Linked DNA regions of Homo sapiens. The protein of the gene in region 3 interacts with the protein of the main gene of each other region in a biochemical or structural test. Each region holds a gene or a part of one and is shown on either strand. Other genes may lie near its edges. The genes, in order: YWHAQ, AHR, NRIP1 and CTBP1.

Evidence for each region.
Region 1: the proteins of NRIP1 (region 3) and YWHAQ form a complex in vitro, tested with the Homo sapiens proteins (one study listed by BioGRID).
Region 2: the proteins of NRIP1 (region 3) and AHR form a complex in vitro, tested with the Homo sapiens proteins (2 studies listed by BioGRID).
Region 4: the proteins of NRIP1 (region 3) and CTBP1 form a complex in vitro, tested with the Homo sapiens proteins (2 studies listed by BioGRID and IntAct).

What each region holds. Positions count from the first base shown.
Region 1 is NC_000002.12:9,585,199-9,594,248, reverse strand, and holds part of YWHAQ (14-3-3 protein theta), read left to right. Parts: intron 1-2,733; coding exon 2,734-2,857; intron 2,858-5,920; coding exon 5,921-6,084; intron 6,085-6,739; coding exon 6,740-6,835; intron 6,836-8,903; coding exon 8,904-8,963; 3' UTR 8,964-9,050. UniProt on the Homo sapiens protein: Adapter protein implicated in the regulation of a large spectrum of both general and specialized signaling pathways. Binds to a large number of partners, usually by recognition of a phosphoserine or phosphothreonine motif.
Region 2 is NC_000007.14:17,301,021-17,310,070, reverse strand, and holds part of AHR (aryl hydrocarbon receptor), read right to left. Parts: intron 136-9,050; coding exon 1-135. UniProt on the Homo sapiens protein: Ligand-activated transcription factor that enables cells to adapt to changing conditions by sensing compounds from the environment, diet, microbiome and cellular metabolism, and which plays important roles in development, immunity and cancer.
Region 3 is NC_000021.9:14,958,731-14,964,046, forward strand, and holds the end of NRIP1 (nuclear receptor-interacting protein 1), read right to left. Parts: 3' UTR 2,505-5,316; downstream 1-2,504. UniProt on the Homo sapiens protein: Modulates transcriptional activation by steroid receptors such as NR3C1, NR3C2 and ESR1. Also modulates transcriptional repression by nuclear hormone receptors.
Region 4 is NC_000004.12:1,231,443-1,240,492, forward strand, and holds part of CTBP1 (C-terminal-binding protein 1), read right to left. Parts: intron 6,896-9,050; coding exon 6,741-6,895; intron 6,736-6,740; exon of another isoform or gene 1-6,735. UniProt on the Homo sapiens protein: Corepressor targeting diverse transcription regulators such as GLIS2 or BCL6. Has dehydrogenase activity. Involved in controlling the equilibrium between tubular and stacked structures in the Golgi complex.

The DNA.
Region 1 (9,050 bases), on a different chromosome or scaffold from region 3:
GATGTTGAGCACAATAAATTCTGAAAAACTGATTTGTCTGTTGTTTTTACAGTTAAGAGTGTAGTGATACTGGAGCAGCACTTGTCACAGTTGCCTTTAATTTGGGTGTGGCCCTAATGACCTCTTTTGCCACACTCCTGGCTCAGCAACTTTCCAACTTGAGCCACAATTTTGATACTCATGACTTCTATAATGCATAAACTTCTGAGACTTCGATACATAATTTTATACTAATTTTTTGTGCGTGCGTGTGTGTGTGTGTGTGTGTGTGTTTTAACTTCCTCTGGCCTCAGGCCCTTAAAAAAGTGTGTGTGTGTGTGTGTGTATATATATATATATATATTTTTTTTAATCTATTTAAAATATTTTTTCAATTAAAGGATTTTTAATGTTTTTCTGGTTTTTTTCTTTTAGAGACAGACAGGATCTCTTTTGCTCTGTCTCCCAGGCTGGAATGCAGTGGCACGATCATGGCTCACTGCAGCCTCCACCCCCGGGGTTTAAGCCTTCCTTCTGCCTCAGCCTTCCAAGTAGCTGGGATTACAGGTGTATGCCACCACACCTAATTTTTTTAAAATTCTTTGTAGAGACAGGGTCCCATTATGTTGCCCAGGCTGGTCTCAAACTCCTGGGCTCTCAGGCAATCCTCTTGCCTCTGCCTCTACTTCCCAGAGTGCTTGGATGGTAGGTGTGAGCTGTTGTACGCAGCCTCTGTTTATTTTCTTTAAAAATAACTTATGGGCCAGGCGCAGTGGCTCACGCCTGTAATCCCAGTACTTTGGGAGGCCGAGGTGGGCAGATCACTTGAGGTCAGGAGTTTGAGACCAGCCTGGTCAACATGGTGAAACCCTGTCTCTACTAAAAATACAAAAGTAAGCTGGGCGTGGTGGTGTGCGCCTGTAGTCCCAGCTGCTCGGGAGGCTGAGGCAGGAGAATCATTTGAGAATCACCACTGCACTCTAGCCTGGGCAACAGAGTGAGACTTTGTCTCAAAAAAAAAAAAAAAAAAAAAGACATGGATGCAGTGATTGCATTTTGTTAGACCACTTTTAGTCAGATAAACAAGAAGAAAGTTCTTGGTTAGAATTGTATATTTTTAAATTTATAAACAGCCTTCCTTTTCTTTAGCAGTTATGTGAATTTGACTCAACCTTACTTGTTAATTCTCCAGACTTGCCAACTTGGTATCATGGATGGTATTTTATATAATATTAACTGAGCGTATCTGTGGTTATTTTTCCAAAATGTAAAAAGGATCTTCTCTCTTCCCTGCTTTAAAACGTTCACTAGTTTCACTTTTCCTAGAGCAGTGCTTTTCAAACTGTGTACCTAGGCTGATACTAGCTAACATTTACTGAGTACTTAACATGTGACACTATTCCAGGCTTTGACATCTGTTACTGGTTTTATTCTCAAAACAAACCAATGAAGTAGGTATTAGTATCTTAACATTTTTATGAGAATTTCATTTTGCTTTGTAATATTTAATACAAAAAAGCTTTTTTTGTTTTTGTTTTTGTTTTTTGAGATGGAGTCCACACTGTCACCCGGGCTGCAGTGCAGTAGCATGATCTCGGCTCACTGCAACCTCCACCTCCCAGGTTCAAGCAATTCTCCTGCCTCAGCCTCCTGAGTAGCTGGGATTACAGGTGCCCACCATCACGCTTGGCTAATTTTTTGTATTTTTAGTAGAGACGGGGTTTCATTATGTTGGCCAGGCTGGTCTCGAACTCCTGACCTTGTTATCTGCCCGCCTTGGCATCCTAAAGTGCTGGGATTACAGCCGTGAGCCACCGCGCCCGGCCCTAAAAAGGTTTTTAAATGGATGACCTAGCATCAAGAAAAATGGAATCTAAGAAGATTTCTATCATATTTGTCTTTTGTGACTTTTTATACTCCAAGGCATAGCATACCATGTACTAGAAGTGAAAATTTCTTTGTATGAAATTAGGGACAAAAGACATACTCAAGAACTTTTTTAAAAAAATAATTAGATTTCGTAGACCTAAAATTATTCTTTTAAATTGCTGTGCAAGTTTCTAAACCTCTTACTCTCGATTCCTGTATTTACCTCATTTTAGATGGATACTTGAATGCAAAGGGCACTGAGTAGCACTATTCTCCCTCGTACTTGATGTTTTAAACATTTTGTTTCCCGTCCCTAAAATGAGTGCACATCCCTGTTTTCTGTTTGGTGCATTTCTACTTTTCCTTCTTCATGCCTCAAATACTCTTTCCCTGGGAAGCCTGTCTTAACTGGAGGCCATCTCCAGCAGAGCTACTCCATCTGTGTGCTTCCTTAGCACCGTATTCACATCTTTCTTAGTTCTTGGTATGTAGTTGGTGTACTTACAGACGGTGAGCTTCTTGAGGGCAGGGGCCTGATTTTAAGTCTTCTCTATATCCGTTATAGCACCTAGCAGGTATGAGTAAATGTTGAATGAATGGATGAGTGAACAGATAGGCTGTTTCAAATTACAATGTTTGGTGTAATCTAGAATCTAGCCTTACCATTAGAAACTATAGGCTACATCATTTAAAGCCTCCCAGGGCAACTAGTGGCAACAACCTAACCCCTGCTCTAAGAACATGCTTCAAGTCCAGGCTGGTATGGTATAGTATTACTGTAGTAGTAAATGATTGAAATGCCCGCTAGGCAGAAGTTTTATCATTTAATGATAATGCACAGTAGGCAGAAGTTTAGTGCCTAATGTTCTGTCTTATTTATTTCAGGAATTGTTGGATAAATATTTAATAGCCAATGCAACTAATCCAGAGAGTAAGGTCTTCTATCTGAAAATGAAGGGTGATTACTTCCGGTACCTTGCTGAAGTTGCGTGTGGTGATGATCGAAAACGTAAGTTTATTTGTTATATGGGCAAAAGTAGAATATAAAAAAAAGAAATGGGGATAAATGGGACACTATGACAGTATACGTAGTCTTCAGGCTCTTTGTGACTTAATAATTGAATGTATGTCAAGAAAATTAGTATTACCTTATGTTCTCAAAAATGAAAATTGGATTATAAATTTACATCACATGCTCTTTAAAAAAATTAAGCTCATCTGTGAACTCTGTAATCTCATATGGTATTATTTAAAACAGGATTAATCTTTTATGCTTTTTAGAATTTTGGTTCACCATATTTTTAGCTCCAGAGTTTTTTGTGTAAACTTTATGAGTGATTCTGCATTTCACATGGCCTTTCTATTATGCCTTAAAACTTCAGATCACTGGAAATTACATACAGAACGTGGAAACAGGTTGTTGTGCTTTTGCTGTTTGTCATATTCATTATCGTCTATTTTAAGGGGTCATAACATTGACTGCTAATTACATATAATCAGATTTCTGAGGAGAGGTGAAATGAGTGTGTTATTGCTGGTGTATAACTTGCTCCAACTTCACAGTAAGTTTGAATGACTCATGGTTAGGTTTTACTTGAGAAGGTTGAATATACAGGAACTGTTGATTAATCAAGTAGTGGTCATAAAAATAGATTTTAGTATTAAATACCTTTTTTTTTTAACCTAGACTATCATAGAAAACATGGATATGAGAAAAAGTGACCGAATTGCCTAACTTGATAATAAAAAAGTGAAGTGAATTTATTTGCAGTGAATGTCTCTTGGGATACTGGCAGCTGAATATAAGATAGATCTCATTAAATTTAGTGTATGTGCTTGCTACCAGATTTATCAAGTTCTAGGTATTAGAAGTGTCAGTCCTTATTTTTTCCAGTAAGTTTGTTGTTTTGTTCTTAATTTTGCCCTGTCTACAAAGATATACCCCTACAAATAGTTACTATGATCTGAAAATGAGAGTTTTGCCATCCTAAATATCAGTGTAACTGAATATATAAAGAGAACTTGTACCTGAGAAACTGTTATACCTTGCTATAACAAAATCTATATACTAAACTTACTTATTCTGTTACTGATGTGTAATTTCTGTTGCCATGAAGGTAAGCAGAATTGGACATGATACGGGCACGGAACTGTACATTTAAGTATCAGAAAGCCAAAGAGAAGTATTTGGGAGATTGAGACATAGCTGTAGCTTTAACCTGATTTAACCCTTAGGAGCTCATTGGCACTTTCAGGTCTCACACGTAGTCCTGTGTACATTCTGATAGGCTGCGATTCATAGATAGGCTGTCTTTATAGCCTAATTGCTGAGACACTGGTGCTTCCTAATTTGCCAAGCTGCAAGAACTTCTTATTGCATGTGGGCTGTACCAGTCAGGGATTAGATCAATAAATGTGCCATTTCAGAGGAAAGAAAATGAACATAATTCAGGTCATAAAGGGATAGCTTAATTCTCTTACGTCAGTATCTCTAAAGCTGTAATAGGCCAGTGGCCTCATACAGAAAACTACCCTTTTCAAAACATGGGTATAATCAGATTAGTGTTGGTAATACTGAACATTTTTTGAAGGGGGAGTAACATTTTAATTAGGCTAGTAATCAAACTCTGGTCAGAGCAGATTTTGTCCTATTTATTGAAACTTTTATATTGCCTTTCAAATAATACCACTTGATACTAAGAATCAGTATTTCTGCAAATCAGAAAAATAGAGATTTTGGTGTTGATGATCTTTGTAAAGTTTACATTATTTAGGGAAAGGGTATTCCAGTCAAATTATTATTATTATTATTAATTTTGAATGGAGTTTTGCTCTTGTTGCCCAGGTTGAAGTGCAATGGCGCGATCTTGGCTCACCGTAAGCTCCGCCTCCCGGGTTCAAGTGAGGCTTGTGCCTAGCCTCCCAAGTAGCTGGGATTACAGGCATGCATCACCACTCCCATCTAATTTTTGTATTATTAGTAGAGACGGGGTTTCTCCATGTTGGTAAGGCTGGTCTTGTACCTCCAACCTCAGGTGATCTGCCTGCCTCAGCCTCCCAAAGTGTTAGGATTACAGGCGTGAGCCACTGTAAATTATTCCAGTCAAATTATTTTTAATTGCTGCATTTCCAAGTAATAGAATTAAAAGACATAAAATAAGAAAATAGTTTTAGCCTAGGTATGGAAAAAAGTCTGATTTACTATAATATCTCATGTTTTTTTTCCATTAAGCTGTTTATATGTAAGCAACATTCTAAACTGGTTTTTTGTTTTGTTTGTTTGTTTGAGACAAACTGTCACTGAGGTTGGGAGTGCAGCAGCATGATCTTGGCTCACTGCAGCTTCAACCTCCTGGGCTCAAGGGGTCCTCCCACCTCAGCCTCCCAAGTAGCTAGAGCTACAGGCACGCACTACCATGCCTAGCTATTTTTTATTATTATTATTTTTTGTAGAGACAGGGATAAGATCTCCCTGTGTTGCCCAGGCTGGTCTTGAACTCTTCAGGTTCAAGTGATCCCCCTGCCTCACCTTCCCAAAGTGTTGGGATTAGAGGCATGAGCCACTGCACCTGGCCATAAACAAGTTCTTAAATACCCAGTACACAATATTGTTTTTGTTTGTTTGTTTTTGACACAGAGTATCGTTCTGTTGCCCAAGCTGGAGTGCAGTGGTGTGATGTCGGCTCACTGCAACCTCAGCCTCCCAGGTTCAAGCGATTCTCATGCCTCAGCCTCCTGAGTAGCTGGGATTACAGATGCCCGCCATCACGCCTGGCTAATTTTTGTATTTTTAGTAGAGATGGGGTTTCGCCATGTTGGCTAGACTGGTCTTGAACTCCTGATCTCAAGTGATCCACCCACCTCGGCCTCCCAAAGTGCTGGGATTATAGGCGTGAGCCACCGCGCCTGGCCACGATAATGTTTTTTGTTAGCTACCATGATTTTAAAAGACCCATACAGAGAAAAAATCTTGGTTCTACCAAGAGCTAGTAGCATATGTTCAAGTTGTTAATGTACTGTGTACTGGATGGTTATTTTTAATATTGCACTTCTTATTTTTCGCTCTTCACAGAAACGATAGATAATTCCCAAGGAGCTTACCAAGAGGCATTTGATATAAGCAAGAAAGAGATGCAACCCACACACCCAATCCGCCTGGGGCTTGCTCTTAACTTTTCTGTATTTTACTATGAGATTCTTAATAACCCAGAGCTTGCCTGCACGCTGGCTAAAACGGTAAGATGTGTGTCCAGGAAATACGTACTTTAGCTACAGTTATTTGAGATACCAGGTATGTTAATTTATAGGTATTTTACTTGGATACCCAGGGATGATTTCTACTATATTTATTTTGAAATCTCCTCTTTTTCTTCCCATCATGATTACCTACTCCTACCCCTGACACCTTACTCTACCCTATGATTATAAGCAGTGATGTGCCTACAGAGCATACTGAGCAGAGTAATCAAAGAAGGATAAATGATGTTAAGAAGGAAACATAAAAGATTAGAAAGTCATGCCTGCCAGGTTTGGTTACTAGAATAGCTGTGCATCAGCCACATTCCTCAAAGTGGCTCAAAACGAGAGAATAAAGAGGACCCTGTAGAGATAAGTACTACTTAACTGGAAAGAAGTCTGTTAAGCATTGCTGCTGTTCCGTTGTCCTGTGAAAGAACCAAGACATGCTTGTTTACTAAGTGTATAGTTTTATAAAATTCCAGTCATACTCATAAGTTCTTAAACTGGGAGTGTGAGAGAATGGTTCTGTTGAGTTTGTTGATGGTAGAACATAAGGTGGGTGTTCACTTATTTTGTAAAAATGGTTTGTAATTGTAGAATAACCAGTTTTCGTCAATGCACATATTTTACCATGGATATTAATATTTATCAGGCTTTTGATGAGGCCATTGCTGAACTTGATACACTGAATGAAGACTCATACAAAGACAGCACCCTCATCATGCAGTTGCTTAGAGACAACCTAACAGTGAGTTGTTTACTCTTTTAATTTTATTTTCTTTTCAGAAACAAAAGTATTTATATTTTATTTTGGACTTCGTGTCTTTTAGGGAAGATACATACGAGCTGAAAGTATGAGATACGTGTTAGTATTTTATGGGACGAACATTATTTTGTAGGCAGGTTTTCAAGTTGAATAGGCATTTTATCAGACCTTCCTGAGAAGGTTCTAACATGATAGGAACTCAATATTAATATTACTATTTCATTGGGATGAAGATGTTGATAAATTATGTTAATAAAGAGCTTATCAAGTTTCAATATTTTGGGGCAAATCAGCTATAGCCAGTTAGGGACTATCTAAATATCTACGCTTTCTTAAAATCACAGGAAGTACCTTGTTCTAATAAAAGTTTACTTTGTGAATTGTGCATGATGTTCTACAAGCATTTAGGGAGTAAACCTATACCTAAACTTACTCCTTCTCTGCTTCTAGGCAAAAGCTTCTGTTTTGTTTGTCTTTTTCTCCCTGCTTCTTAGATAGGCAATTGATAAAGGAAGTAATCAAGAAAAAGTACAGCTTAAGCTTTACTTTAACATTCTTTTGTAGGTTCAAGTAAATTTGATAGGTAAAATCTTAGACTTCACAGAAGGAAAAAGAAGGGAACAAATCTTTTAATATAGATCTCGTCCTCCCAGCCCCCTAGTTTGGTGCTTTATCATTTACTAGATAGGATTTTTTAAATATTAGCACCATGTCTATTCAATTTTGCTGAATAGGGTAATTATGAATCCACTGAAAGGGGAACGAAGACCCTGCATTTCTAGCCATGAGAAGTGCCTGTGGTTGTGAGGGGACAATGGAAGATGATCAGCAAATAGTTCTACAGAGGAAGAGCAAATTAGGCAGTTATACCTCTTCCCAGATGTATACCTTGGAGCTAACTATCTTTTAATCGGTTTTGTTTTGTTATCTCTATTATGGAGACAGGTCTTTGGGGGATTTTGTTTTGTTTGTTTTTATTTAGTATCTTCATAATAATCTAAGGATTATGTAAGATTCTGGCTTTTCTGAAATTAACACTAATGTCTTGCTGTTGGTCTAATAAAGTGCAATTATAGTCAATAAATACTGACTTCTCTTCTTCACTTCATCTTCCTATCCTAAAATCAGAGAGATCCTGGAAGATCCACTTAGTTTTAACATTCTGTCTAATTCAAGAACCCTGTCTATACATGCACACATTGCTTCCCTGTAGCTTCCATCACCCACTTCTATTTAATTCTTGGAGAAACACAAAGTAAGTCTGCTTTTCCTATAGTTTAGCCCTTCACACACTTGAAAATTGTTAACCATGATTGTGGCTTTTTCCTCCCTGTGAAAATGTTTTGCTTTATTAGTCTGTAATAATAATGCAGTAGTGCTTTCAAGAAGAGCATTGGGCTGCTGGGAATAGAGACTATCACTTTGCTTATTCTGAAAGTAGAGTGCCTTTTTAAAAAAGTTTCTCTTTTTTTTTTTTTTTTTTGAGAAAGGATCTCACCCTGTTGCCTAGGCTGGAGTGCAGTGTCATAATCATGGATCACTCCAGCCTCAACCTCCTGGATTCAAGCAGTCCTCCTGCCTCAGCCTCCTGAGTAGTTAGGACTGTAGGCACACACCACCCCGTACCTGGCCAATTTTGTTTTTGAAATTTTTTGTAGACGTGGGATCTTGCTATGTTGTCCAGGCTGTTGAACTCCTGGCCTCATGCGATCTTCTCATCTTGGCCTCCCTACGTGCTGAGATTACAGGCGTGAGCCACTGTGCCTGGCCAAATGCTTTTTAAATAAAAAGGAAGCTATAAAACCATGCTCCAGTGGTATATGTATGTATGTATGTATGTCATTTTGTAAGTGCATAGTGAAAGGTCTGCAAGGATGTACTTTGGGAAGGTGATGGTCTTTGGGGTTTTGAGAGAGAACTTCAGTCTTAGTCAAGATCTCCATTGTTTGAGGAATTTACTACTCTTGTAGTTAATTTTGATATAACAATACTACTTAGTGTAATTGCCTAATCTAGAAATAGTAACTTAATATGATTCTTCTTTTTCTAGCTTTGGACATCAGACAGTGCAGGAGAAGAATGTGATGCGGCAGAAGGGGCTGAAAACTAAATCCATACAGGGTGTCATCCTTCTTTCCTTCAAGAAACCTTTTTACACATCTCCATTCCTTATTCCACTTGGATTTCCTATAGCAAA
Region 2 (9,050 bases), on a different chromosome or scaffold from region 3:
AGTTTGTCCAACTTATTAATAACATCTTGTGGGAAAGGCAGCAGGCTAGCCAAACGGTCCAACTCTGTATTAAGTCGGTCTCTATGCCGCTTGGAAGGATTTGACTTGATTCCTTCAGCTGGGATTGGCTTTACTCTGAAAAACAAACAAAATACCATAAAAAATCCTTTAAAAAATATAAAGCAAAAATTTCTATTGCATTATAACATCTCCTCAAATATTTCTCTAACACAACAAACTTTTAAAGTCTACTTAAAGTTTACGTAAGTCTTTCTAAAATCTTCCTTTCACATCTTAAGAAAAACAGGGAATGGGTTAAATTCTTCCGAATATTTCATTAAAAAGCTTATGAACTCATCATAGGAAAATGTTTGCTTATACTTCAAGCATTTGTAGCACAGTGATTCCCAATTAACAGATCTACTGGGATTTTTTTCCCCTCTCAAATGCATTAGCCATTGTTTGGTGGAAAATTAAAAAGAGAAATTTGTGATAAATTATATGAAAATCATACTTCCTTTGCTATCTTCCACAGGAAGCATCTCAGCATCATTGACGTTGTCAATAAACAAGGACAACCCTAAATAAAGTATTTATCTTCATATCACCAGCTTTCTGTATTTATTTACTTTCAACTCATTAGAGATAATGTCCCAAAGCCCCTCTGACACCTGCAGATGGTCCTCCAGCCATCTAATGTGGTCCTCAAATATTAAAAGAAGAATAAATTTGACTTTTGCTATTTACATTTCTTGTTGGCAAATATTAGAGGTTAATGGTGATTACCAGCAACTTTTGCTTTTACATGTAGACAATAATTATACTTAATTATTAGCTTTCGTAGCTTGTGTCTCAATTAGAAAGTTCAACGGAACCCTAAACAATTTAGCATGATTTTCACCTGAGAATAAAGACACTTATGGGTCAAAGAGGAACATGAGTTCAGAAAAGAAAAGTTGAATAACTTCACACAAAGACCCCAGCCAGGATTTCACAGCAGACATTAATCACTTAAAGTGAATTTAAAAATCATCAGATACCCACGCTGAACTGGGAAACTAAAGTAATTTATACCTTATACCTCTATACCTTCCTGTTAGCCAGAAGAGTAATTATCTAGCGTTTTCTTACAACAAAGACATTTTTGACAATTCAAATGGAATTATATCAGCTTTTGTAAAGTAGAAATTGGCCTGGGCATAGTGCTATTAATATGACCCAATCAAAACATTTCTAGATAATTTCTTTTCAGTGATGTATGTGGAGAAGTAATACTTTAGGCAGAAAGAAGATGAAAAGTAAATACTTCTACAAAAAAGGTAATACATCGGTAAAATGATGTGTGTGTGTGTGTGTGTGTGTGTGTGTGTTTATGTATGTATCAACAGATACCTTCTCCAGGTTGTCTGTACAACTGTGTATATAATAGAAATTGGTGATGGTTCCCCTAGCTATTTTCCCCTAATCATATTGCATTTATAAACAAATTTCAAGTCACACCTAATTACTTCACTTCTCCACTTAACCAACTGAATTTCAAACTTTACCTATAATGCTTGTCTACCTCATTGTGTAATTCTCTACTGGTTAATTAATAACTTGCTGACAAGTATTTATTTATATCCATCACATCCTGTACAGCCCAGGTAAACACTTTTCTCCTAACTATTCAAAAAGTGTTATGGGAGCTAAGCAGAAGCAGCAACTGCTTGAAAAAAGATTTTACAGAAAAGGTGGTATCTGAGATGGATCTTGAGTGAGGGACAGGATTTCATGAAGAGGCATAACTAAGGATTAGTGAACTGTAAGAATTCCCCCACATGAAGGGAGAGGCACAGGGTGAAAGAGAGAAAAGAAGAAGGATGGTTGGGGCCACATTCTTTCAACAAATGCTGAACACCTATCAAGTGCCCAGCACAGAACACTTACAGGTAAACAAAATATACAAAAGCTCCTGTTGTCATGGAGCTTACATCCTAGGTGGAGGATGGAGAAATAAACAAATAAACATATAACTTTTAGGGCGGTGAGTGCTAAGAAGAAAAATAAAGCAAGGTAAGAAACTAAGGGGTGACAGACGTGATGCTGGTTTGGACAGCCTAGGAAGGTCTCTCTGATGTGATGTTTCAGGACAGACATGAGTAAAATGAAGTGAGCTATGTGGGTGTCTGATGCAAAAATGTTCAAGATAGAGGAGACAGCAAAGTAACGATAGAAATCGGACTTAGGCATCTGTTCTTAAGTGTTGAGCTGAGATTTACAAGATCAGCCTGTGTTTCACCAAGCTGACTCTGGTGATAGAGTATACAGAAAGCAGGGCAGGGTTCGCTGAAGTTAGGATTCCGGGATGCCAGGAACTTCTTTCTAAAACATAAATCTGACTGTGTCACTCCTCTGATTAAACTCCTTCAGTAGCTCTGAACTGTCCATGTTCCTTAGCTTAGCACACAAAATCCTTCATGATCTTTCTAGCTTCATTTACCCCTCTGGCTTCATTTCTTCTATTGAAGCCGCTTTTGTCTATTCTACCCCAGAGCTAAGAAATTACTTACAGTTACAACATGTGGTTTAGTGCTTTCATACAACCTCCTTGTTATGTCCCATTGGTTTCAAGTCCCCGCTCAAGTAGATCACTTTCATGAAGTCCTCCCTGACCTACCTCACAATGGATTAGCAACTCTGCCCCATTTGACTTCTTATACAAATGTCTAATATAATGATTCCATTAAGGAATATTCCATACAAACAACTTCACAGAAATAGAAAGTGTGTACACAATCCAGTCCTGCACTCTTGGTGGCTTTCCAGTAATGATTATGAAACACTGGAGAGAAGAGAGTGACACAAACGCTGAAACAAGGCAACATGCTATGACACAGGGAGAACTAATAGTAACATAAAGGTATCCCTCCATGTGGTACTGCTGCCTGTCTTGTGCTGGCTCTTTGCAATATTCAGCCTCACACTAGATTCTGAGGCTTGCTTTTCATAATGCAAAATTGTCTACATTTCTAATGCATTACTATGTGTCTTACAAAATATTTAACATGAGAGCAAATTTCCATTGTCAAGTAACATAATTGCTTATACTTGTTTGCCTAACACCCTTATTTCTATGTAAGCTTAAATCATTTTTGTATCCTTAATGCCCAGCATAATAGAGTGGATTCTCAATTAATGTTTGCTGACCAAAAGTGCCAAGAAAAGGAATGATCACAACCTGACCAAAGGCAGTGACAGTGAGGTTAAGAAAGGACTGGCTTGAAGAGAGATTTAAGCCAGACTCAAATGTTCACTGAACTAAACTAACTCACTATAGGAAGTAAGGAAGAGGAAACCATTGAGTGAGGAGAGGTTGCAAATGGTTCTGCGATTTGTAGCTCAGAAGAACAACTACATTTCCTAATGAGAGCTGTACCAGAAAAGGAAAAAAGTGGCTTGAGGATAGACCTCAGTAATACCAACATTTAGGTATAGGGCTATGGAAGAGGCATAGACACAGAGAAGAAATGATAGACGGAAAAAAACCAGGGTAGAATATTTTGGAGGTCATAGAAGAAAGTCAAATACACAGAGGAAGAAAGTCAAATACACAGAGGAATTAAGGTCAGGGCTAAGAAGTACCCTCAGAACTTAACAATTCAGATGTACTGGATTTGAAGCTTTTAAAATGTCAGATTGTTAAAGCTAACAAAGGTAATGCATTTGACCCACTTTTTCACTGATTTTGTGAGAAATGTACAGATTTTGTTAAAATATTTAATATCTATCCATACATCTTGAAGATATACAGAACAATTAAAAATAGAGTAATCTTACATTAACTGCACTTGACTTGGATTACGCTAATATTTTTACTTTTGTATTGTCTTCGAATCTTTAAGAAAGGACACTGCTAACCATTATTTAAGGAAAAGCCTGTTTGAAATATAAATAAACATCCCTGTAAGATTGGATTTGGGAGCTCTGGAGTTCAAACATCTCCTGAAATAGACCGTATGATGTTGGTCAGGCAAAGGAGTAACTTATTATTTTTTGAAACCTTTACCTCAAAAATCTTGTCCCAATCTGTAAAATTGTTATGAAATCAAGACTCCAGCTGACTGCATGCCATGCTTCTGTTTAGAAGCCCTGCAAGCTTTAACTGCTGGTGGTAACAGGCCCAACAGTATGCCCAATGCCAGTCTGAATGCTATCTTGAAAGCCTTTTTAACATCTCCATCAAAAAAGTCTATGAGGTTCATCATTTGTAGCCAGTGTTTGAAGCAAAGCTGAAAAAATTAACCAAGTTTACTCATAAATATAACTGTTTTATATAATATTCATTATAAAACCTCAAAATGACATGCAAAGATATGGTTTCAGTAATCCTATGAGATCAAAGTGACGTTTTTTAACAAGAGATTGCCTCTCACAGTACTGAGTTTGCTCTATCGGATTTTTCCTCGGGGTGATTTAATCTACTCTTACTGCGTTGGTCTACTTACCCATAACTTGTTTATCTTTATTTCCAGTCCCTGTACCTGACCCTGTGCCCTTCCATTCAACATTCCCCTGGAGTTGGGCACCCGCTTCTCAGCACTATGGTGCTACTCTCCATCTAACAGCTAGGAAATCTGAAGTATTCCTCAATAAAATCCCCCTACCATACTACCTACACCCAATAAAGCCCAACTCTTAACCCCATTCATTCTTCATTTCCTTCCCCCAGCTTCAGTGCATCCGTATTTATCTCTGAATATAAATTTCAAATATTTACAATCATAAACTATGTGCTTAATGTAATGGAGGTGACACATAGCACAAATAGACCCCAACTTCATTGTCAGGCTGAACACAGCTGGATATTTTATTTCCCTATATGAGTCAAAAACATCTACAAAAACTTCTGAGAATTCTGGCTGGAAGCCACTTTTAATGAGTCAGAAGTCTTCTGCCACCCTCCTGCTGCTGCCCTATAATTGTGATGAGTTCTTTCCTTTCCCTTTTGTTTGCTATACCTGAGGAGAGATGATGAGATATAAACAGCATAGTTTCTAGCACAAGACATTAGCAGGGAAGATCAGGAAAATGAAATATGGCCTAGAAACCACTACTAGTTCCATAATCCTGGAAAACTCATTGTTTCCCCTCCCCCTTCTTCTACGCAAACACACATTTTTATTCCCCCTCGAACCCGCATAAAATGTATCTGCCTTACCAGAATCACTAAAACATTACCAAAAAAATTTTAAGTGGTAGTTAATTGTTAAATTAGTACATCTCAAATATGTACTAAGTGCATGGTACTGTACTGGGAAGCTCTGGTAGTTTCAAAGACAAATAATAGTCCTATCTTTAAAGACATTCTTTTTCCTACTAGGAGGAAATATATTTTATAACATGGCAAAATCAAGCATAATATATTGCTCAGTAACACAGGTGCTGCAAAAGAGTTCATGGAGATGTGGCATCTAAATCGGGTCTTAAATACAGGCAAGACACTTCTGTTTCTGTGACGGCAGAATATCTAGCTTTCTGCAACTACCCTTCTCTTCCAGAAAACCACACCAAAACAAGAAAAGCAGGAGCCAGAAACACAAACTCTGTCTCCGATGAACCTAAGTGACAGCTAAACCCAGATGCTAATAAACAGGAAGATGGTAGAAAAGAAATCAATAATAGCATAGAACAGGAAGGCAAATATAATCACAGTATATTACTTAGCTAAACAGTAAACAATATACAGTCAAAAATAATACAACACTAATGTGTATATAATCCAAAATTGTGATAAAATATATTGGGAGGATGCAGGAAGGTGAAAAAGGTTAAAGTGAGACAAGACAGCACTAAAATCCCTAACTACCACAGTAAGACATCAAAAGATAAGGCCTCACATGCTATACTTAAGATGTGCCACATATATAATTGACTTTTAAAATCTGCCAGTATTATTTAATAGGAATACATTTTAAAACAATATTTCAATAGAAAGAAGTAAAAAGAACAAACTAAAAGATGACTGAAAAATGTAAGACAAAACAAATGAATACGTAAAGGACACCCTAAGTAGAAAATCTGCAAATACAAGTGCTTCTCCTATACATAACCATGATCCCAACATATAACTTTAATTACCAACCACACTTTTGCCTATGAAATTGACAATAATATTTTTTAAGCAAAAATGCAAAGATATAGTCACATCCCCAGATTGATGATGGAATGTAATTAGTAAATTTTTCTTAATTTGATACTATCTCTTGGAGTGTACGATTTGGTTCAACCTTAAAACAACACATACTTTTCTATCCCAAAATTCCCTTACAGGAATTTTTTCCTAAAAAAATAAATTTGCATTAAAATTTACACGTCCCAAGGGTATTCTCTGAAATATTAAAGTATTAAATGGTTGGGAATAAAATTTCCTCCCAAAAGAAAAACAGTTAAAAAAATTATAGAATATTAGTACAACAGAGTATTATGCAGCCTTTAAAAACAATGTTTTAAAGAGGAAGGGAGGTGGGTAGCAAATCAATAAGACAGGAGAAAAGACTCTAAGAGGAAAGGACGTAAAAACACAAGTATGGGGATGAGCAAGTACAAATTATGTATGGGAAATGACAAATAATTTATTTCAGCCATAACACTATCTGAGAAGAAACAGTGAAAATCCCTAGGATATGGCTGTACTGTATGCATCACTGAATCTGTTCACCTGGACAGTACGAACACAAGTCAGTAAGAACACAAGCTTTGAAGCAAAAAGACCTGGGATCCAATATCCAAACTCTTTCTCATTATCTGAGCAACTCTGAATTTGAATCTCAGTTCCCTATCTATAAACTTAAATAATACTACCTTTCTTTAGTACTATTATAAAAATGAAGAAAATGATGTAAAGAACTGGGCAAGCTTGTATCAGAATAAGTGCTAATAAACAGTCATCTTTTGTCATATTAAGCCACTAGCAAAATATCAATTTTAAAAGAAGCATAAAAGTAGAAAGGTACTGTTGTAAAAGATTTGTATGGTATTTATTTCTAAGTAACTGTCTTAATTAAATACATGAGTAAGCACGTACTATGTAAATTTATTCACCAGTGAAGTAGCACATTTCAGCCGTAGCCGTAATTGAGAACATAATCGTATACTGCCTCTTACTGTTTCACGGGCGAATTGATTGTTCTGTGATAATGTAAGCTAAAAGAATAGAATTTACGTTTCTGTTTCATTTGTATCTTTAGCAGTCTTCACAGTTTATATATATATATATATTTTTTTTTTGTTCTGTTTTAGTTGTGAGAGTAGCAGTACAGGTGCTGACTGTCGTGCTTTATTGGTCAAGAAACTTGCCCAGATCTGTAACAGTGAAGAAACTAGACCTCATTTTTTAGTTTAGATCCAGTGCTTTCAATTTATACCTGTTTCCTCTTTTTGCCATTTAATGTTACCTATAACTAAACACTTTCACTTACTTCATTTCATAGTTCTAATAAGCAAGTGTCCATAACTACTATGTATATGCTATCTAAAGCTATTGGAAAGAAAAATGATGGAGAAATAATTGTGTAAATGAAAAGACCCATTCTTTTATTTTAGATGCTATTTTAAAAATGGCACCATAAATTTATAGAAAACATTTAATGAGTATTATGTAAGTAATACAATTCAGTATTACATATATGAAATTCATGACATTTAAAAAGAATAGCAAGACAATGCTTTTATATTATTAATATGTTAATAAAAGTAAAAGTTTTTATCAGTATGCATTTTAAAGAAAGATCAGCTAAGGCTCAGAAGTGACTTCCAGTTCTGACACTTCATAATGGCTTAATCACCACTACAGCTGGTATCATTTTAAAGTGTAGATCCCCTTTTCTCAACACCTATTATTTGCCAACATTCAGTGCTAACTTTCTATGTACAGGTAAGCTGAAATCCATTACAACTTTTTCTTTATGATTAAAACCTTAAAAATACAAAAATATATACAAAATTATCACTAGGGAAAAACATTCTATTTAATTATATAATGGCCTTTTTGACTATCTTCATGAGACAAAATAAATAAACACTTTCATTTCCAAAGAGAATAAAATAAACACAGGATTTGTTCTCTTTTTCTGAGTAGGGTCACTAAGTATGGGGCAACAGTCTAAGCAAAGTTATAGTAGATTCTATAATGAAAGTTATCTTTGATATTTTCTTCTTGAAGGTAGGAACATGAATTGGACGTAAAGTTGCTTCAGAGCCTTTAATTTCCCAACCTTCATTACTCCAAAAAGAAAGGAAATATTTATTGAGAGTCTACTATGTTGGAGATACTTCAGTGGGATTAAATTGAACACATTTAAAATGTATTTCCTACTAATAAAGATAATTTTCAATGTGAGAGCCGCCACTAGGGGGGGTTGATTTTTCTTAATAAATTCAACTCAAGATTGAAAGAGCTTCAGGTTACAATTGTCACCTACTTTACTCCAAAATTTTATGGAATACTTATATTCCATAAAATTTATATTTAATTGGCTGTCTTTTTAAACAGTCCTATAATAATGCTACAGCATATTTTATCTGTAAATAAAATAAAATGGCTCTCATTTAAGAGGTCAAAGTTAAGTAGGTCTGGATAGCATTTTCAGCTCAAAACAAGATCTATTTTCCCCAATGTTGGCATGTTTTGGGGCTCATTAGGCCACAAACTGGTAGTTTAATTTTAAAACTCAAATTTAATACTAGGTTTAATGACTTCATTTCTAAAATAAACTTTGATTAACTGCATTATAAAGTTAACAATTTTTCATTCAGGTAAAAATAATTTATATAAACACTTTCACTTGATAATGAAAATGCCAGCACTAGCCTATTCTTACAGAGCAAGCTGGTAATATTTAAGGCATCTGTATGATTAGAAGCAATATACGGTGCTCAGCAGAGATCTGATAAACATCTATGCTAACAAAATGTGGGTGAATGGAAAAAATACTTTTGTTATATTATAAGAAATTAATACAAGTATATTAAAAACTAAGTAAGTATAATATTAGGATAATCTAATAAAA
Region 3 (5,316 bases):
TTGTGAGAAAAAGTATTTATTTGTTATAGGAAAGCAATCAGGGAAAAGGGAGAGAAAGGCCTTCGCTAGAGATCTAAAGCTTATTGATCAGTGTGTGTTACAGCATTGAACCCACTGGTATTATTCCCATACTTTAGTCTCTCCCACAGACTGGATTGAGCCCGTTTTTATCCACATTAGGCTATCAGCACTCTAAGTGCTTTTCTAATGGACATTTCCCCCCCAAAAGTAAGGTAATTGAAAGGAGAAAGCCATGATTTAGAAGTTGCGGAAGTGGCGAAGGTTTGTATTACAACTTTGGTTTTTGAAAGTGACTACAAAATTATGAAGGGGAGAGAAACAGGATCTCTCCCAGTTTACCTAAGCATTTCTATATACTCAAAGACACCACTGTGAATCAAACAAGAACATAAGAAAACTCAGAAGACATGGGCAGAGAAGCAAAATGGCCAGGTACGATGTAAAATGTAATGAGGCTAGCTAGCACATCCAACCTGGTGCTAAAAGTCTTTTAAGGACTTGAAGCTAGCTTGTGGAAAGATCAGCTATTAATGTTTGCCAGAGGCAACCCTTAGGCCTTTAGAGAAAATTGTAGTTTTCCAATGATAAGAAAATTACCCCATGGTTCTATTCTTGAATTATTTTATCAATTAGCTAAGGGAAAATACAATCTCAGACAATGCACTGTACCTGCACTGCGGCTCTATTGTGTGGCATCGTTCACATAGCTTTCCAAAAATGTGGGCTATGACAACTATAAAACGTTAGGTCATTTTCTTTTCCAGATGTGATCTCAGAGGTGAATGTTTCTCAGCTGAAGTGAGGAAAATGAATATTCCAAAAGGATTGCAGCTTTTCTTAAGGTTTGGAACACATACCAATGAAGTTTGGTAAAGGCAACAGAGGGAAAGCAGGTGGTTGTCTAGGACTTTGTGTCAACATAAAGGCTGTAAGAAGACTTTTGAATGTCTCAAAAATTCTCTTCTGACTGCAAAGGTATACTATTTCAAAATTTGGTTTACTGATTAAAAGGTTTATATGCGTACTTTTAGACACTCATAAGAGGACATCAAAAGTGCAACAGCACCTCCCCAGGACTGGAATTTATGGGACTCTATTTCCTATTATTCGGCCTCCAACTCAAGTACATAAATTTTGGCTTTTAGAGTGAGAGTCTTTAACTTATTTATGAAGATGGAATCTGAAAAATGTTGTAGATATTGTTGTGCCAGCCACTTATAGAGAATTGGAGTATTAAATGATGCTAAATGATGCCAAAAGCTTCCTCTACCAACCCTTATAAGGTGAGGTAGTATTAGATACAAGTTTTATGGAATAAACAAAAAAATTACCAGTATGCTTAATAATGAACATTTAAAACCTGTTTCCTACAGCCAAACAGGTCATAGTTGAGTGATACCAGTGGTAGGAAAATAAATTTCAAAATTACTTTTGTTGATGATTTTCCACACTAACAAGCTTGAAATAGAACCTTATATAGTATGTGATTTTAATCTGAATTGATTTTTAAAGACCCTCCATATTAAAGTCACAGGCACTATTTTATAATCAAGAATAGCTAACTGGTGCTTCTCTTCATAAAAATCCCTCCTGGGCAATTCACTACTTGATGCACTTGTCAGGGTTTTTCACCATGTAAATAAAAGAAGACATGGTTGTGCATCTCTCATTCTGTTATTATACAAATAGCAAGATGCAATTTTTCAACATTTTAATAATGTAGAACAGCAGGAAGTATTTTTATTACTTGAACATTTTTAGACATTTATAAACCTATTAAGAGAGAAGCTGCATGGATTACAATAGACCTATCTGGGTCCCAGGAAACAGAATTCCTCTTTGGGAAAATGTCTTTCTCATAAATTATCATTATTTGTAAAAATAAAAATTCCTAAGCTGTTAAGTTTACCTGGGTACAAAGTTTTTTTTTTTTTCTTGGAATCCACTGGTCTCTAATACTTATTGAGTATGTATGTTGCTTATCAATTACTCATTACCTATACACATACAGCATATATTTAAACATGTAAACACGTGTATATACATACACATTCATTTTTGGAAAATTATTAAACTCCTTTTTCTTTTATTTAAAATAAACCACACCCATTAAAAACTGGATAAAAGCCTTCTGATAAAGTCTTATCCTAAAATGAAGTGTGTATGTATATACATATAGTCAACATTAATTTTGAATACTGCACAAACTATTTTCTAGTTTAAAAATTTACAGTGATCAACTAGTTACACACTGAATCATGGGAGAAAGGCCATAGGCTGATTGTCACTTTGAGTTATGCCTTAATTACCCTGTTTCTAGTGCACTAACTTGCCAGCCACCTTCTTTTTTGTCCCCTTTATTTTTCTAAGAAGGGCAAAACATCCTTGAAGATCACTGTTATATTCATAGCAATGTGTTTTACGTTTATGGAAAACCTAAAAACCAGAGAAAGCCCACAAAATAACAGTCATTTCAAACCAGAGACAATGCATTTTTTCTCATTTATTCAAATTCACTGCAGGAAGTAAACACTAAAAGATTAAAAAACAAAACAAAAAAATTCACACTGCAGTATGTACAGTTTCATGACATCACATGAAGAAATTAAATTTCTAATAAAAATGGCAAATTATATTACTGAGCAGATCGCATCAAATTTGGTTGTGTAAACACCAGAATTCTTACTATGAATGGTAATGTGCCTATATTCCAGTATTGCTAATACTGGGATACTCTTGGAATAATGTTTGCAATGGGATTAAAAAATTCATGAAAGTAGTTGTGTGAATTCTTTATGTTTAAAAGTGGTTGACGATTAAAAAAATTCTTTAAGACCCTTCGAATCAAAGCACATTCTTTCACAAAGCTTAAACCACAGACGTCATGTCCAGAAATGGAATACTGTCATGTTAGGATGAACATCTGATCTGATTTGTTAAGACATTTTGCCAAATGCACAGATGCACAGGGTCCCCCATGCACTTTTCATGCAGCAGGTAATCACAACTTAAATAAAAGGTTTATTCTATACATTTGTCCAGACTTGCAACTGTATACATACATGCACAACTTTTAAACCTGTCTGATTATATTTACACTTATACATGGAATATACAGGAACCAAAGAGATTAAAAGGCTTTTCTGTTGCATTAGAACAATACAAAATATGTATTTTTCATTAAGGAAATCACTATTTACATCACCTTTAAAAACCGATTTTAACATCTTCATGTAACAAGTCAATATATATATATATACATATTATATATATATATATATATATATATATAAAATATATACTCTCACCAGTTTACTCTTCTGTAAGATGCAGCAGAGAATAAACAGGTAATGAATGCTACCTTACTGATGTCAATAAGCTGTAGTACCCTTTCACAAATGACTTTATTAGAAGAAATTGTCTAGATATCTAAAATAGTCCTTGAAAATGTGTATATGTGCATCCTTGTATCTACATATGCATAAACAAAGTGAATCTGTGGATGTATGCCCTTTCTCACTGTTCTTTAAAATCACCCTAAATTCAAATTGGGAACATTCTCTAGTAAATCAGAACAGCATTCTTCGTGGTCATGTTTATTTAAGTATTACATATTCTCATTCCTTTGTTAACAACAACGAAAACAACCAGCCAACCAAAAAAACAAAACAAAACCCACACACACACACACAAAAGTAGCAATGCTGGCCCTTGGTCTTTTCCCTGACCTAAATTTCACTCTCTTGTAAAAAGGTCATTTCCCCCTACCCAAGGGAGAATACCAACATATTTTTTCTGACATACCTCTAAGGCTCCAAACCTTCCACAACGATCAAGAAAAATGACTTGTTTAAAAGCTTATTTATATAGTGTTGACAATAAGATTGTCATAGTATGGACATGGAATAGAATATATTCAACTGGCCAGTGGAATTTTATGTCAGAATAAGCCTATGCCTTCACTTCTCCATGATGTTGCATAATACCCACTCCTATTACTGTATAATATTTCCAGTAGCTATTTACAAATCATTCTGAGGAAAAATAACCATTTAGGGTTTTAGATCATATTAGGAAATCACACCTATTTTTAATATAAAAATCTTAGAAACCACTTCAAGTAGAACAATTTTAAATCAATATCCTAACTAGTAGTGATTATAGAATAATTTTTGATAGGTCATTTGCTAACCTGGTTCACAATTAAGAACAAAATATCTGGTGAATGAATTGTGGATTGTACAAACTGAACATAAAAACAGACCTGTTTCGCAACTGAAACCCCATGTGGCTTCACTAATATATTAATTTCTTCTAAGACAGTATCAACATGTACTTTTCATCACTACTTTAAAGTAAAAGATCCAATGGAGTGATTGTGTACAATTCTGTCACGTATATGTGCCCTTTGTACTTTTTATTTAGTCAATCTGAGTTTAGTGCCCTTCTTGGGTTTAAACTAAATGTTGTAAGCTTTGTTGGCATTGTTCTTAGGACAATGGTTTTAATAAAGGTTAAGGATGCATTCAGGAGAAGTTTCCAAACCATCCTGGAATCACCTGAGTTTGGTAAGTGGCCCTGTTTTTCCATCCCTAAGGCTAACTAAGTAGATGTTACTCATTAGAACACACAAATAATCACAGATTTTCCTGAGATGTTGAGCCAGATATGAAAGTTATCCCCTCCACCCAATTTTTGTCATAAAAAGTGTTCTGAACCCGATTTCCAAAGACATAACGGTAATATATGAACTACAATATTGCAAATTTTGAGCTGATGTGTGACTGTATTGGGGAAAATAGAGGCATCACATAGTTTTTTGTTTTTGTTTTACAGTCTCATGTTCTGAGGAAAGTCATAAGTCATGGTTCTCAAACACAAGAAACACCTAGAGAGCATGTTAAGATGCAGATGGAAGATTCCAGGTCCACTTAGCAGAGATTCTTGTTCTGTAGATCTGAGATGCTGCCTATGAATCTGCATTTTAAAACAAGTGCTCCAGATGGTTCTAATGCAAGTGGTCTGAGTTCAGGTTTAAGGAATCCTGGTCATAACACTCGCAGGTACCACAGGAATGGTGAGAATTAACTTTTACAAGAGATGGTGAAAACTGTCCAAAGAAAAGCCATTTTGCTTCTGTTAAAAACAATTTCTTAAATATTCAACTTTTCAGGAAACCACCTAAAGATAAATGTTAACTTTTCTAATTCTGTAAAAGGAGGAGTATTAATTTAGTAAAGTAGTTAAAATACAAAAAATGGAAATCTGCCTTTTTTTTAAAGGATCTATCAAACT
Region 4 (9,050 bases), on a different chromosome or scaffold from region 3:
CTCCAGTGCTCAGAGCAGGCTGGGGAAAGCTGGGTGCCCAGGAAGCTCGGCTGCCACCGGGCTGGAAACAGACCCCAGGACGCTCCTGGTGGCAGCTGGCTCTTGGGGGTCAGGAAGGGGCCCGCCAAGCCCACCTCCTGCCATGCAGTTCTGCCACCTGCTTCTGTGCTCAGGACTCGACGTCGCACTTACCTTTCCAGACCTCGTGCACAGGGGTGGCTTACTCTGTGAAACTGCTGCTCACATCAGGTCACCATCAGGGCAGATGTTTCTCTACGACACGCAGCCACATGCAGGCCCAGGGTGGGGCTGGGCTGAAGACCGCAGGTTTCAGATTTCCAGAGAAACTGCCAAAGCACCATCGAGACCGGCACGGCCGTTTCTATCCCACATGAAGGGCCAGGCCCAGGCTCCCTCAGCACGGCTGGTGCAGGGCTCAGCGCAGGCCAGGCCAGGGGTTACCGGCGGTGCCTGCTGCACCTGTGAGAACCCAGGAGGCGCACCCCGGTTCTCATACACCGCTCTGTCTGTACCAAACGCCACCGCCCTCATCCATTTTCTGTCGGGATTTTTCTGTTTCTACTGATTGGGAGGAGTCTTTGAATATATAAACTTTTTCATTTACTTATTTTACAGACAGGACCTCGCTGGACTGCAGTGGTGTAATCATGACTCGCTGCAGCCTTGACCTCCTAGGCTGAAGCGATCCTCTGGCCTTGGCCTCTGGATACGCTGGGATGACAGGCACAGCCCCTGCACCAGCTCTGAGTGTTATCAGACATTCACCCTTAGGCTGGCACACAAATTGAAAATACCCAACCCCTACCTCTCCCGTTTTTATTTTTTAAATTTATTTTGCTATGTCATTCTTTCTTTTTTTCCTTTTTGAGACAGAGTCTTGCTCTGTTGCCCAGGCTGGAGTGCAGTGACACGATCTTGGCTCACTGCAACCTCTGCCTCTTAGGGTCAAGAGGTTCTCCTGCCTCAGCCTCCTGAGTATCTTGGACTACAGGCGCGCACCACCACGCGTGGCTAATTTCTATATTTTTAGTAGAGACGAGGTTTCACCATGTTGCCCAGGCTGGTCTTGAACTCCTGACCTCAAGTGATCCACCCGCCTCAGCCTCCTAAAGTGCTGGGATTATAAGCGTGAGCTGCTGCACCCCACCTTGCAATGCTGTTACTTCTAATTGCCATTTAATTAAAGTGACCTTTTCCTCTGTAGTATCACATTTTCCACAGAAAACATTGTATGTTCTGTATTGTCATAACCTCAGGTAATAAACACATTCTCTTGCAAGCGTTCCTCTAACTGCTCTTCATTCAAACACGTGGCCGCTTCAGTAGGCAGCGAGCATCTGTGGTGGGGGGAGCTGCTGCAGTTCCTGAACGGCCACCCCAGGGGCCCCAGAATTCACCGACTCCCCAGTCCTCGGCCCACACACCTGAAAAGCCACTGCCTGAGTCCTTGGGTCCTGCTGGGTGGGATTGTCTCTGATCCTCTGTCCTGTCTACTCTTGGTGGTACCAACACTGCCCAACTGGATCTTCTAGACCTGAGAGGGGGTCCTGGGGTCTGGACATGCCCTGCGGGGGTCGCACTGCACCCGAGGCTCAGCTGGGCACTGGGCAGTCTGCCTGGAAACAGGCCCCTGCATACGGTGATGGGGTCTCTGTCCTCTTGGTCCTAGAAGCGACTGTGACCCGGTATTAAGGTCAGAGCCCACGGCAGCCCGTCTCTGTGCCAGCCGCCAGCAAGAGACCGAGGGGCTCCAGGCCTGTCCTACACTCCATTACCATGACAACGCCAGCTTGTGTGTTTTTCCCAGTCACCATGACAACGCCTGCTTGTGTGTTTTTCCGGGATTTCTAATCACTTCGTTTCCTGCACAGCCCCAGCACCTCTGTCTGGCGGAGCTTTCTGGTGGCCTCCCCACCCCCAAGGCGTGGAGATGCTTGTCTTGCAGGAGTGCAACTGTCCAGCTGGCTGCAGGTCCTCGCAGGCCACTGCGTCCTGTGCCCTCCCGGAGCCGCCCTGCCGCTCCAGGCCCCGCAGCCCACACCGGACGCAGCCTCCAGGCTCCAGGGCTTCCTTTTTCTTGCTCAGCAGTTTGATCAGATGTGCAGTGCTGGGCTGAAAACCCTTCTCCTGTGGAAATTCCAAAGCAGGCGAGTGGGGCTGGGCTGAGTCTTGTGTCCCGGTGGGTGACATCCCCCACCCGTGGTATCAGTAAAATCCCAGTCCTGAACCTGAACACTGGGGCGCCTCCCAGGCCCCGACATTCTTCCCGCTCCTCCTGTGACCGCACTGACGGTATCACGTTCTCTCCCTCCACGGCACTCAGACGGCGGCGACCTCCAACCAGCTATGCGGGAAGTTTCTGCCCCAGGAGGCAGAATTCCTGACTAACAGTGGCACACAAAGCAGGTGTTCAGTTTCCTCCCACGCCAAAGCCTGGAGACAGGGAGCCTGCGGCCCCGCTGCCCTCTCCACAGCCACGAGGGTCCCTGCCTCCTGCCTTGTTGCTCCACGGTTCCCAGCACGTGGCTCCCCTCACAGTCCAAGGTGGCTACCCCGGGTTCCAGCCAGCAGGGACGAGGAGGGGACGGCAGGGAGAGGCCCTGCTCCCCTCTGTTCTGGAGCTCAATCCTTTGGCCACCCCTAGTGGCAAGAAAGCGTGGGCAGCCAAGTCCTCCCACAGGACCACACACTGCGAAACGCGGACTCGGCATCCAGGCAGCCCCTGCAGACTCCACACACAGCCCCGGGAGGTCACGGCTTCTCTTCACCTCTCTGGCTTCTGCAATGTCCCTGTGTCTTTGAGCTTCCTGTTTTTATGAGATTTTCACTCATGTTTTTAATTTCAAGCTCTCCTAGTTCTTGGGGGCTCCTTTCTGTGGCGCCGGCTCTGCTTCTGGTTAGGGGCTGCTTCAGGCCCCTCCAGGATGCCAGGACGGTTCCCAACACTCTCGTCTCTTCCAAGAATCCAGCTGCATCCCCTGGGGCAGTTTTCTGTGTATTTATGTTGTCCTTTCTCTGCCCTGGGCTGTGCAGCCTGGGTGGGGAGCAGGAAGTCTGTCTCATGCCAGGGCCCACGCCGGCCCCACCCCAACCACTGATCTGCATTTTATATGAACCTGTCAAGGCAGTTTGGGATTACTGCAATTTTAGAAAAACATCTGTTTTGCCTTAGCTTTCCAATTTGTTGGCAAAACTGTTTGAGTATTGTTTACGACACCAAAAGTTTTCTACGAGCCTCTTTTTTATTCTTACGTGTGCATCTTTAATACAAATCCAGCTTCCCAATGAGAAAACCGTACCTAACAAAGGGCACTGTCCAAACCGAGCTGGTGCCACACAACTCCCTCAGGTGTGCACCACGGGCAGTTCACCCACAGCCCCTTGCATGCGTGTGGACATGCCCACGTGACGTGCCAACGTGCCCATGTGCCGATTCCAGACACCGGCCTGCCGGCGGCCCCCCCACCTACACCCCGGGCCACTGTTTCCGTCACGCTAATCCTATCACCTGGGGATGAAGAGATCATACAGTGTGCACCCCTTGAAACCAGCTTCTTCACTCGCCATCATGCTGCCGAGATCACCCAGGGTGTGGCAGGGACCCAGCGTTCATGCCTGTTGCTGAGGAGGACACCGAGGGAGGTGGCCAGCATTTGCCTGGCCACTCACCCACTGAAGGACAGCCGGTGGGGGGCGTCCTTCTGGTTTGGGCTATGGTGAGTTAAGCTGCTAGGGAGCATGACGTGCAGGTCTGTGTGTGGACGCGCATTCCGAGTCTCCGGGATAAAGGAGTGTGGCCACTGGGCTGCATTACAAGCACGCATCTACCCGTGTGAGAAACCATGAAGAATCTTCCAGAGCGAACGCCCCAGCAGACGCTCCCGGCAGACCACGCGCATTTTTAACATCAGATTTTCTTCCGTCCATTTTGGAAAGGGTTTTGCTGTCATCATCACTTCCAACCCCTTCCCTCTCCTGTTCTGAAGTTTCTGCAAGAGCGACCCTTCCTCATCTCGCCCTCTCCCGCGTTCTCTCCTTCCCTCCTGTCCGCTGCCGCCTGGTCAGCTGGTAAACCCGCCCCTCAGTTCCACCGATCAGCTTCGCCGTTTTCTCAGATCCGCATCTCATTTTCTCCCCTAACGCTGCTACGCCCCGTTCCAGAGTCATCAGCTCTTCGTCGGTGTCTGGCCCAGCCTCCTGGGGGCTGGGCTGGGGTGATCGGCTCGTGGGCAGCACGGGGAGCTCCTGCGGGTGGCACTGCTTCCCTGGCTTCTGCGTTTTGCGCATCTCCTTGACTGCCTGGTTACCTCTGTTTGCATGTGATGGACCCCGCACCAGATGGTGATTTGTAGAAATGACCCGAGGCCTCGGCTGACGCTGTCTTCCTCTAAAGGGGCCGTCTTACTTCTTTTGCCAGGCACCTGGGGCCGGCAGTGCGGGGTCCCCAAAAATCCAGATTCAAGGTTTCCTGGACATCAGCAGGCTGGGTGCCGATCGTGTGGCGCGTCAGAGTCCAGGTCACCCTCACTCCAGATGTCACCTTTCAGGCCATGGATATCCCGGCAGGGCCCCACACCCAGCAGGCCAGTGATGCCACCAAAGCCAAATTCAGCCTCTCAGCTACTTCTTCCAGAACAGCCAACACCCCAGGCCAGAGTTGGCAAGGCCCGCCCGTTCCTGCAGGTTATAGGCCTCTCCAGGCTGCAGCCTGGGCCTGGCCCTATCCTGTGAGCTCCTGGGGGCCCAGCTTCTTCGTCTGTCTTCAGGGAAAAGCTGCTCTGAATCACTGATCCCTGGCTACAAGTAGAAGCCAGACCAACCTAGTTCTCATCACGGAGGAGCCTGTGGGTCTCCTGAGCAAACAAGAATCAGGAAAGCTGCCCAAAGGCTGCTCACTGCTGGACCAAAGCCAGGCCGCGGGCAATGCCGAGACCGCCCGTGTGAAGACCGCCGCGCAACTGGGGCCGGGGGAAGCACCTTACTCCACCCCCGCCACAAAAGCTGGCATCCCGAGGACCTGCTCTCTGGGAAAAAACTGAAAATGAATCAAGAAGCCACAGGGCAAACCCGGTGTCCACCTCCTGATGGGGCTCAGGACAAACCGAGTGTCCACCTCCTGATGGGGCTCAGGACAAACCCCGTGTCCACCTCCTGATGGGGCTCAGGGCAAACCCGGTGTCCACCTCCTGATGGGGCTCAGGGCAAACCCGGTGTCCACCTCCTGATGGGGCACAGGGCAAACCAAGTGTCCACCTCCTGATGGGGCACAGGGCAAACCAAGTGTCCACCTCCTGATGGGGCTCAGGACAAACCCGGTGTCCACCTCCTGATGGGGCTCAGGGCAAACCGAATGTCCACCTCCTGATGGGGCTCAGGACAAACCCGGTGTCCACCTCCTGATGGGGCTCAGGGCAAACCGAATGTCCACCTCCTGATGGGGCTCAGGGCAAACCCGGTGTCCACCTCCTGATGGGGCTCAGGGCAAACCCCGTGTCCACCTCCTGATGGGGCTCAGGAGAAACCGAGCGTCCATCTCCTGATGGGGCACAGGGCAAACCCAGTGTCCACCTCCTGATGGCGCTCAGGACAAACCGAGTGTGGGGCTCAGGGAAAACCCCGTGTCCACCTCCTGATGAGGCTCAGGAGAAACCGAGTGTCCACCTCCTGATGGGGCACAGGGCAAACCGAGTGTCCACCTCCTGATGGGGCTCAGGATAAACCGAGTGTCCACCTCCTGATGGGGCACAGGGCAAACCGAGTGTCCACCTCCTGATGGGGCTCAGGACAAACCGAGTGTCCACCTCCTCATGGGGCTCAGGGAAAACCCGGTGTCCACCTCCTGATGGGGCTCAGGACAAACCGAGTGTCCACCTCCTGATGGGGCTCAGGGAAAACCCCATGTCCACCTCCTGATGGGGCTCAGGGAAAACCCCGTGTCCACCTCCTGATGGGGCTCAGGACAAACCCCGTGTCCACCTCCTGATGGAGCTCAGTGAAAACCCGGTGTTCACCTCCTGATGGTGTGCAGGGAAAACCCCGTGTCCACCTCCTGATGGGGCTTAGGACAAACCCCGTGTCCACCTCCTGATGGGGCTCAGGACAAACCCTGTGTCCACCTCCTGATGGGGCTCAGGGAAAACCCGGTGTTCACCTCCTGATGGGGCTCAGGACAAACCCCGTGTCCACCTCCTGATGGGGCTCAGGACAAACCCCGTGTCCACCTCCTGATGGGGCTCAGGACAAACCCCGTGTCCACCTCCTGATGGGGCTCAGGGAAAACCCCGTGTCCACCTCCTGATGGGGCTCAGGACAAACCCCGTGTCCACCTCCTGATGGGGCACAGGGCAAAACGAGTGTCCACCTCCTGATGGGGCTCAGGGAAAACCCCGTGTCCACCTCCTGATGGGGCACAGGGCAAACCGAATGTCCACCTCCTGATGGGGCTCAGGACAAACGTGGTGTCCACCTCCTGATGGGGCACAGGGAAAACCCCGTGTCCACCTCCTGATGGGGCTCAGGGCAAACCCGATGTCCACCTCCTGATGGTGTCCAGGGAAAACCCCGTGTCCACCTCCTGACGGCGCGGGACGACTGGGACAGAGGCTGCTCCTGCCCCAGTGGCACCCAGACCTGCTGTGGCCCGGGCCTGCCGTGCTCCCGTCCCTCCAACTCCCCCCAACGTGCGGTTCTGCCAGCCCCAGGCGACCACGTGGTGGTACCTTCTCATGGATCTCCTGCGTGGACTGCGCGTCGCAGAAGGCCACAGTGGCCACGTCCTTCAGGATGGGCATCTCCACTGTGCAGTCCCGGCCATCCAGCAATGCCACCAGGGGCCGCGGGTGCAGGGGCCCGTTCATGATCGGAGGTCGGACGCCTGCAAGACAGAGGCAAGTGCTCAGCCTTGCACCACTGCGGCCCCGTGGCTACAACCCACTCCACGCCACCCACTGTGCACGGGCCAACGAGGGCCGACCGCCGGGGGTTTTCTGGTCTATATGTTGTGATATTTGTAAAAAGTAAATTAAAAATCCACGTGAAAGACAACTCGTGTGTGCCTCAGCTCGCTGACTCAAGTGGACACAGACTGTGGACACCCACTACCATCTCCCTTGGGCACAGGACCTCCGAGACCCTCCAAGTCCCCTCCGAGACCCTCCAAGGCCCCTCCGAGATCCTCCCAGACCCTCTGAGACCCTCTCACACCCTCCAAGACCCTCCGAGACCCCCCAAGAAATCTCCAGACCCTCTGAGAACCTCCCAGACCCTCTGAGACTCCCCAAGACATTTCCAGACCCACCGAGACACCTCCCGACCCTCCTAGGCCCTCCAAGACCCTCTGAGACCCCCCGAGACCCTCCCAGACCGTCCGAGACCCCAGGGCAGCTCCATGAGGCAGGGGGACAGGAGGGACCCAGGACACTGGAGGACACAAGATGACAGCACGGGACTTTGGGAACATGGTTGTCCCTTTCCTGCCTGGGCTACCGCGTGGCTGCCCGGAATCCCTGATGGGGTCACCAGTGTTTCACGTAGGACGCCCCCAACCCTCTGCCTGGCATTACTTCCAATTATAGATGTGAAGAGAAAAGAAACAGAACAAAGGAAGAAAAGGGTTAAAACCTGTTAAAGTCCACTCTGTGCCCCTGACCTTCCCAGAACCAGATGATTAAAGCTCATTAACACCCATTCCTTTCGCGTATGACGCAACTAAGCCTCATCGGGGCCAACTGGAGAAATAAGGGCTCTGAGGCGTCACAGAAGCATGGCAGCTTCCAGGCACCGCCCGACCGCCCCGTGCCAGGCAGGGAGCACCAGGTGGGGCCACTGTCAGCCCCACGGCAGCTGGGCAGAGGCGGAGCTGGGGCCAGGGCCCAGCCGGTCCCTCCCCTCCTCCTCCAAAGACCGGCCACAGGAGACCAAGCAGTACCCAGGACCGTTCGGCCAGCAGGAGGGGAGGCGCACGACAGAACCAAGGAGCAGAGTGACCCAGCAGGCTCTCCAGTGGCCGCGGCCACAAGCACGCTCGGCCCAGTCTCCCGCCCCATCCGCTGCCCCATCCGCCTGCAGGTGAGCAGAGGCCACCGAGCTGCCAGTATCCAGGAAGCAGGGAAGTGCCTCCTGGAACCCATGGCAGAGAAAAGAAATGCTCTGGTGGACAGCCCAGGGGTGCAGTGGGCCTGCAGCACACGCCTGCAGGGGACGGGGCATGGGTCTCCACTGACCACCCCAAAGCCGAGGGCTCCCAGTACGGCTGGGCCCATGCCCCTCCCGTGAGGTCCTCGCGCCCTGGCGTCCTCGGAGGAGCCACTGGCCATTCCACCCACTTTCCTTCAAGATAGGAAACCAGATCCCAAACGTGAGGTCTGCACGGTCAAAACCGCGTCCTGGTTCGCCTGTTCCTTCATTCCCTCTGGACGGGAGCTGCCCACGAGCACCATAGACAGGCCGCCCAGTGACACTGTACATGGCCTCCCTCTGCACGTGGCCTCCCTCCCCGCTGTGTGTGGTGGTGATGACTTCTCATGAGCAGAAAGGTTTATGTTGCTGTTTCTGAGTGAGTGGATAGACATCCGCTCTCAGTATCCTTGGATTTCACTTCTGATGAGGAAGGCATGGACACACGGGATCACTGCAGACCGCTCGGCTGCGTCAGAACCGCCTGGGGGGACTCCTGGGTGCTGGGTGAGTGGGAACCGGGTCCCTCGTCAGAACCGCGTGGGGGACTCCCGGGTGCTGGGTGAGTGGGAACCGGGTCCCTCGTCGGAACCGTGTGGGGCACTCCCGGGTGCTGGGTGAGTGGGACCGGGTCCCTCGTCGGAACCGCCTGGGGGGACTCCCGGGTGCTGGGTGAGTGGGAACCGGGTCCCTCGTCGGAACCGCGTGGGGGACTCCCGGGTGCTGGGTGAGTGGGAACCGGGTCCCTCGTCGGAACCGCGTGGGGGACTCCCGGGTGCTGGGTGAGTGGGAACCGGGTCCCTCGTCGGAACCGCGTGGGGGACTCCCGGGTGCTGGGTGAGTGGGAACCGGGT